2 linked regions of the Homo sapiens genome follow. The protein of the gene in region 2 interacts with the protein of the main gene of each other region in a pairwise test. Each region holds a gene or a part of one and is shown on either strand. Other genes may lie near its edges.

Evidence for each region.
Region 1: the proteins of TAS2R5 (region 2) and TMEM187 interact in binary tests that used the Homo sapiens proteins (3 or more experiments, as listed by UniProt).

The regions. Positions count from the first base shown.
Region 1 is NC_000023.11:153,970,711-153,974,621, reverse strand, and holds the start of TMEM187 (transmembrane protein 187), read right to left. Parts: upstream 1,869-3,911; 5' UTR 1,762-1,868; intron 1-1,761. Other genes in the region: HCFC1 (host cell factor 1), read left to right, coding at 3,782-3,911.
Region 2 is NC_000007.14:141,787,767-141,791,677, reverse strand, and holds TAS2R5 (taste receptor type 2 member 5), read right to left. Parts: upstream 1,462-3,911; 5' UTR 1,317-1,461; coding exon 417-1,316; 3' UTR 311-416; downstream 1-310.

The sequences.
Region 1 (3,911 bases), on a different chromosome or scaffold from region 2:
AGCCCTGGATGGGATCATGTCTGCCCTGGCTTTCCACCCTTCCATGACCAGCTTCCCATTCCATGTCCTGGATCATGTCCCAAAGTCTTGGCCAGACTTAAAGTGCCATCCCCATCCAGCCCTGTGAGCTCCTCAGGCCCAGCTCTGTCCTGGAAGCCCTTTGCCCACTTCGCCTGGCCATTGCCCTTGACTCAGCTGTCATTTCCTCTCAGGCACTTCCCCGTTCAGCTCCTGACTCCAGCTGAGACACCAGCTGAGGCCCCGCATGGCGTCTACAGGTCCTTCCCTGCACCCACCTAGGGCCCCATGGCACCCATGCTAGTCTGACCCTCCTGCCTGCCAGCAAGCAGGGCGGAGAGCTGGAACAAGAGTCAAACACTGTCAACTTGATCGAGGAAGAACTCCAGGAAGGGCATGGAAAGCAACTCCTCTTTCCGGCTGCAGGGGTTCAGTCTATCTGACCGGGGGTACGGGCTGACAGTGACCATGTAATCAAAGCACCTGTCCAAGACCCCCAGGAAAACCGAGCTGGTTACCTTATAGCCTAGCTTCCCTGTACCTTTGAATTGCCATGATCCTTATTATGTGACACTCAAATCTCGTCACAGCTTCCCCCAGCGCCTGGCATGGGAAAGCCAACACCTCAACAGCACTGGCCCCTGGGTCTGGGGTCTTTCAGGGAAGCCCTGGGAAGCCTGACAATCTCCTGGCTAAAGGCCCCAGACTCTCCCGCACGCGTTTAAACAGCAGGCACTGTCACCTCCAGGCCTTTAGCATTTATGGTTAGTTATGTCCCCCGCTCCGCATGACCTTTCTTGCTGTCTTTCTGTGGATAAAGGAATATCAATTAACATTAATTTAGCTTCTGGACTGATTCCAGGCAAGGCCCTTGGAAACCAGCAGCTGCTTTTGTGTGTGTGTGTGTGTGTGTGTGTGTTTTTGAGACAGGGTCTTGCTCTGTCGCCCAGGCTGGAGCAGTGGCGCGATCTCAGCTCACTGCAGCCCTGAACTCCCTGGCTCAAGCCATCCTCCCACCTCAGCGTTCCAAGTACCTGGGACCACAGGCGTGTGCCACCATGCCTCCGGGTCTCGCTATGTTGCCCCGGCTAGGCTCAAGCAATCCTCCCACCTCAGCCTTCCAAAGTGTTGGGATTACAGGCATGAGCCAACGCATCAGGCCTTAGTTTTCTTATTTACCATGGGTGGGGGACTTGGGGACATATGTGAGGTAACTAGCCAAGGTCACAAAGAGCAGGTGGTGGCACAGACAGGCAAGAATTCTTCTCTTTGTCCCTTCTCAAATGGATACTTCCAACTGCATGAACTAAAACACAGACGATTACAAAATACATGTAATATGTTGAGAGGCGACTTTAAAAATATTGTTGAAAATGTGTGAGAGGGTGACGTGTGCTTCTTTACTAACGCATTAAATTACAAGGTCTTCCAGCAGGACGCATAACTTCAGTAACTTCAAAGTAATAATTCTGCCCGCCGGTAGATCTGGTAGATCTTGTAATTTAACTGAACTTCTAGACGTTTACAACAAAAGCCACAGGCTCTGACAGGACCGGTCTGTCCATTTCTACTGGCGACTGCCGCTCCCGGGCAGCAGCTTGGGTCCCCGCGCTGCGGCCTGCGCGTGGCAGGGCGGATGCCGCCGCCGCCGCCGCCGCCGCCGCGCCCGGGCGGCCTCCTAGAGGAGGCGAAACGTGGGGGCGAGGCCGGGACCCACCTCCCAGGGCTGCGGTGAGCACTTACAGTATTGGCGCGAAAAGGCCAGCTATCACCATACGGGTATTTCGCCTCACTCGCCTCGCTGGGGGAAATTCAAATCTCCGAAAAGGGAGGATCCGAGCAGCGCCGGTGCGCCTGCGCGCAGGGCGGGACTCGAAGCCTGGGAAGCGGGCGGGGCGAGGTGACGCGAGATGACGCGGACGCCTCCCGCGGTCGCCCGCCCGGCTCGTGCGCCACCGGCCCGACTGCGGGCCTCTCGGCAGTGGGGGCGGCCGAGCGCGCGGCGGTCTGGGGCGCGCGGCCCGGCTCATTTTGCTGCGGCGCGGGCGGAGGCGGTGGCGCCCGAGGGCGGGCCCCGCAGCCTGGGAGCCTGGGAGCGGGCGGAGGCTCCACCCCCGGGCGCCGGCGCTCGGCTGCGTCGCCTCCCACTGTCGCCCCGCCCCCGGCTCCCCCGCGGCGCGCCTCGGGCCGCCTCCTGCGGCTGCTGGGTGTGCAGGGCGCGAAAATGCTCGCTTCCCGGCCGCAGGCGCGGCTGCAGTGGCTGTTCGCCAACCCCGGCCACCTGCGTGCCGCTGTCCCCAGTGCTGGTTAAAGGCAGTTCTTCGGGCGTGCGTCCCTTATCAACCCGAGAGACCGTTCCCAAGGGGGCGGGGCCGAGCGCGTCGGAGGGGTTAGCAGTCTCATCCGGGCATTTCCGAGATGCCGCCGCCGCCATCTTTGTTTTGTGCTGAAAGTCGCTATTGACGCCCGCGGACGGCCGGGCGAGGGGAAGTGGCAAGATGGCGGCTCCCAGGGCGGAGGCGTGGAGGCTCGCCCGGTGGGGGGGCCGTGGGGCGGGGCGCGCCTGCGCCTGCACCTGATCTGAGCGCGACTCGAGCTTTAGCCCAGCGCGCGGCAGCGCCGACCCCCACCCCCGCCGCGAGGCAGCGCAGGGGTCCTTTAAGAGGCTTGGGCCCAGGGGCGAAGCGGTGCGAGGGCGAGTGGGGGGAAGCGGTGACGTCACCCGGCTCCGCCTCCTCGCCCGACCGCCGGCGCCGCTGCCGCCATGTTTAGTTGTTACTTCTTCACACAAGATGGCGGCTCCCAGGGAGGAGGCATGAGCGCCCTGCCGTTACCGCTTCTTCTGCCGTACAGTTGCCGCTTCGGGGCCTAACTCTAGCTCTTTGAAGCGGCTCCTGTGGGAAGGAGTCATAAGGCGGGAAGTGAGGATCGGACACCGCCTTGAGTTTGGTGTGCAGTGGAAGAACTGACCTAGGAGGAAGAGAATAGGGGGGAACGGGGAGCTAGTCTCAAGATGGCGGCTCCCACGGCGGCAGGCGCAGCCTGAGCAGCAGAGGCGGACTAAGGGGAGAGGCGCGAGACTTCACAAGCCGTACGGCGCGAGCCCCCAAACGGCCCTCGAGAGCTCGAGCTGGTTCCACCGGCCTCCGGCCCGCCTCCATTCGTTAGGTGTGTCGAGGCTGTTTCGGGAGCGGCGGCTGCACTAAGGCGCTGGGCGGGGAAGCGGGACGGTCTCAAGATGGCGGCTCCCACAATTGTGGTCTGAGCGCCGGCGGGGCTGCGACGACCGCGGCGCTTGTGGCTCCTTTCCACCCGCCCCGGAAGCCGGCCAGTGCTGGGGACTTGGGGGTGTGGGAACCGGGCCGGGGCTCCGCCATTTCCGGCGGGGGAGGGCTACGACTGAGGAAGGGAGGAGAGAGAGGCGGCTCAAGATGGCGGCTCCCAGGGCCTCCCGCCCGAGCTTGTAAGCGGGAGCGCCCGGACAAGTAGTCGGGGCGACGGGACTCAGCGGCCTCCAGCTTCTTGAGCCTAGGCGCTCGACAGTTTCGGGCGGCTCTTGCGGAGACGGGGTGAGCGAGAAGAAAGGGAAGAGCCAAAGGGAAGGAGGGCAGTTAAGATGGCGGCCTCCATGGAGTCGTCTACCGCTGTGTGAGAAACCGCTTCTCCGTGAGAGCTGCCTTAGACGAAAGGGGGTGTGTGAAAGGAATTGAGGGGCTCCCTTCCCGCTTGTTGACTTCTCCCCACCGCACCCTTTCCCGGAACTATGGCTTCGGCCGTGTCGCCCGCCAACTTGCCAGCGGTGCTTCTGCAGCCCCGCTGGAAGCGAGTGGTGGGCTGGTCGGGTCCGGTGCCACGGCCCCGCCACGGCCACCGCGCCGTGGCCATCAAGGAGC
Region 2 (3,911 bases):
TTTCATAAAAATTAATGATCACTATAATTGTTCCTAATCTCTGTTTTCTATACTAGGAAAAACACAATTTATATATGAATTTTTGCTATATGTAGACAGAATTGTTCCTAATCTCTGCTTTTTATAATAGGAAAAACACGATTTATATATGAATTATTTGCTATATGTAGAGAGAATATAATACCTCTTTTACCAAACATGAAGCCCTAGCCTTGATTTCTGTGGTACATTAAAAAAATATACTTTGCATTGCCAAAAGAGACATAGTATTGGGTTTTGATCCGTATTTTCTGTTGCTCATTCATTACATTGGTGTAAAAGAAGGAAAATCTTAAAAGACATGGAAAGCAGCTCCCTTATAGAGAGCTATCAAAAGAGCGTCCCAAGAGTGTCCTGACCACACTTTTCTTCCCAGATCATGGGCCCCAGCATCTCCGAGCACACACTGTCTTCCACAGGATCTTCTGACAAGTCTGCTTCACCCTAGGAATCCCCATGATCAATATGAGAGAATGAAGAGAAGGATAGGCTGCCATGAGTGTCTCCCAGATGAAGACACTGGTGAGATCAGGAGGATAAGTCTTGGAGGTGATGGAGAAGGGGCTGGCCATGATATAAACCAGGTGAAGTAAGAGGAAGCAGCCCAAGGACTTCAGCGCAGTGATGTGAGCCTTGGCCCGGACATCCCTCCTACCAGCTGAATGGACCTTCATCTTCTTGTGGTGTGTATACAAAGAGACAATCAGCATCCCAGAGGAAACAAGAAACACCACTAAAGGCAAATAACTTCCTGAATTGAGCTGAAATGCATACAGGTACTGCCAGCTTTCAAAGGGATACCGAATGCTGCTGTTTCCTTGGGGAGGATGATAGAATGTTAAGCCAATTTGGACTGTAAGTAACAAATTGATTATAAAGTAGCCCAGAAGGCACCAGAGACTCAGGTTATAGGCCCTCTGCTTCAGCCACAAGTAGGCCGGGCGATCGAAGGTCGTGATCTTCTTGCAATAGAAGACACTGAGGAAGGTGGCAAACCATAAGCTGGCCTGGCTTACCAGGACCCAGAAGATACTAAGATAGCGAAGCCAACGGCTGCTCTGGAAAAGTGGAAACAAGCTTAAGTCCAAAATGATCAGCCACTGCAGGAGAAATCGGCAGCCAGCCAGGCCCAGGATAATGAGGTTATATGAGGACCAGTTGAATTTTCTGATCCATTCTCTAAAACTCCAGACCACCAGGCTTCCATTTCCAATTAAACCGATGAGAAATTCAACCACTGCCACCAGCATCAGCAGTCCTAGGCCAGCGCTCAGCATGGCTGGGGAGAGGAGGCTCTCACTGCTCCTGGCTGAGGTCAGATCCCCTGGTAGTGATAACACACCAGGGTAAATTTTCACACCACAAAATCTGGATTTGGCCTCGTCCTTCCGTAATCTGTCTTCAAGCGAGACTGAACAGCTGTGATGAGGAACAGAGAGGTTGGAAGTTATGATACCATCTGTATTTGCATCTACATGAATGAACCCTGAGTGTAGAACCAGAGATTGCAAACAGTACCACAGACACCGGCTCTCCATCTCAAAGGTTTTGGGCCAAAGTCTAGACACCAGGGTATAACGTAACAAGGCCCCTCAACAAGAAAGACCAAATCAAAACATGCTCAGGTGCTATACAGTGCCAGTTATGAGCTCATATGCTATATAAAAAAAGAAATTTTATTTTCATGAAAAGAACACTGGGCCAGGCATGGTGGCTCACACCTGTAATCCCAACACTTTGAGAGGCCAAGGCGGGTGGATCACCTGAAGCCAGGAGTTCGAGACCACCCTGGCCAACATGGTGAAGCCCCATCTCTACTAAAAATACAAAAATTATCTGGGCGTGGTGGTGGCTGCCTGTAGTCCCAGCTACTCGGGAGGCTGAGGCAGGAGAACCACTTGAACCCAGGAGATGGAAGCTGCAGTGGGCCAAGATCGCGCCACTGCACTCCAGCCTGGGCGACAGAGCAAGACTCCATCTCAAAAAAAAAAAGTAAGCATGCTGAGAACTCTCTACGAAGCTGTAGGCAGGCAGGCCACTGCCCGTCTCTGGGCCTCAGTTGCTCTATTAATAACTGAATGGATTGTAGGATGAGATTTCCATTCCTTCGGACTAAATTTACAAAGTGCTTATTTTGTGTCAAACTACGGTGTACTAGGCACAGGGGACGGCGCCATTATAATACACAGTCCCTGCCTCCAGGTAGCATCCATTGTACATCATCTCCACCAAGCTGCAAGGCCTGGTACTCTAAAACTCTGGCTGTAGGCTATGGAGGGGCAGAGGTGGTCGCGATCTTCTACTGGACTAAAAATCTAGATGAGGCTTGAACTCGTCCAAAAACAGTGTTTCTTCAGTGACTTTCTGATAGAGACATAGTGCCTCTCTCTCCCCACCTGCCCCAATCTAGCCTGGCAGTGGAATTTGCCACCGATCCTGGTAGCCAACTGACACGTTTCCAGAAAGCTAGTCTGGCATCAAAAAAACCAAAGTATCCAGAAATATAAAGGTAGGTTTTTGACTACTTTACTACCGGTGTTGAGAGGCTAAACTACATAGAAAATTGAGATAATAATTTAGCTAATTCCCCTAAGAAAAGTGCTTGCCTAAAAAATATACAGGCTCACCTCTTTTTAAAATATATTATTTTCAAACTATAGCTATTTTCTACTTCCTTTTATCAAAAACATAGCATATTGGCAAAGAAAACTTGATTATCTGCAGTAATTTTTAAAAATGTGATACTTCCCATGCAAAATATGAAAACTCGGTTTTGACTTCTGTAGTTTATTAAAATGATGTGATTTGCATTGCTTAGAGAGCAATAAGCTCCAGTTTCTAGCCTGTTTTTCATGTTACCCTTTCATTTTGTTTCAAAATCAAAGAAGAAATGAGGAGAATTGAGAATAAAAATTTCATTTTTCTAAAATCTACAGTTATTTTTACTGTTGTCAGTGATACAGTTAAGGGCCTGATTAGATCCTTCTTCCAAGTCATGGCCTCTAGGATTTCCATGTACATATCATCTCCTACAGAATTCTCTGACAAGTCTGATTCCTCATAACCATTACAATAGACGGAAATGAAGTATAAACAGCCATGAGTGTTGCAGAGATGGCAAGAATGGTGAGATCAGAGGGAGATTAGAAGGTCATGGAAAAGTGTCTGGCCAAGGCAGAAACCATGTAAAGGGGGAAGTTCAGAGCGATGAGCACCTTGGTTTGAGCCTCCTCCTGACAGCTGTGTGGTCCTCCATCTTCCTGTGATGTCTTTACAAAAAGACAAGTGGAACAGAAACATCACAAATAGCAATCAGTCTCCTTCACTGGACAGCAATCTATAAAAATAACAGATTTAAAATGGGATGCAGGATGTTGCTGTTTCCTGTTAAGGGTTTTTAAAGGGTCCAGCCAACAAGAGCTGAGAAATAAAAAGTGATCTTGAAAGACACTAGCAAAAAACAAAAACCCAGTCTTTTCAGCTACAAGAAGTCAGCGGGACAAAGGTCATGATCTCCATGCAGCAGAAGCCACTGAAGAAAGTGGCAAACTACATGTTGGCCTGGCTTACCAGGACTCGAAGACATTAAGATAGTAAAGCCAACCACTGCTCTGGGAAAGTGGAAACAGACTTATGTCCAACATGATCGGCCTGAGTAGGAGAAAGTGGCTACTTACCAGAATCATGAGAATTTATAGGGACTCCTTACATTTTTTTGACCCATCCTCTAAAACTGCAGACCACAGGGACTCCATTTCCAACCAGGCCAATGAGAAATTCAGCCCCTGCAATGGGCATCAGCAATCCTAGGGCAGCCGCCAACATGGCTGGGGAGGGGAGGGTCTCTCTGCTGAATCAGGAGGTGCCCTGCT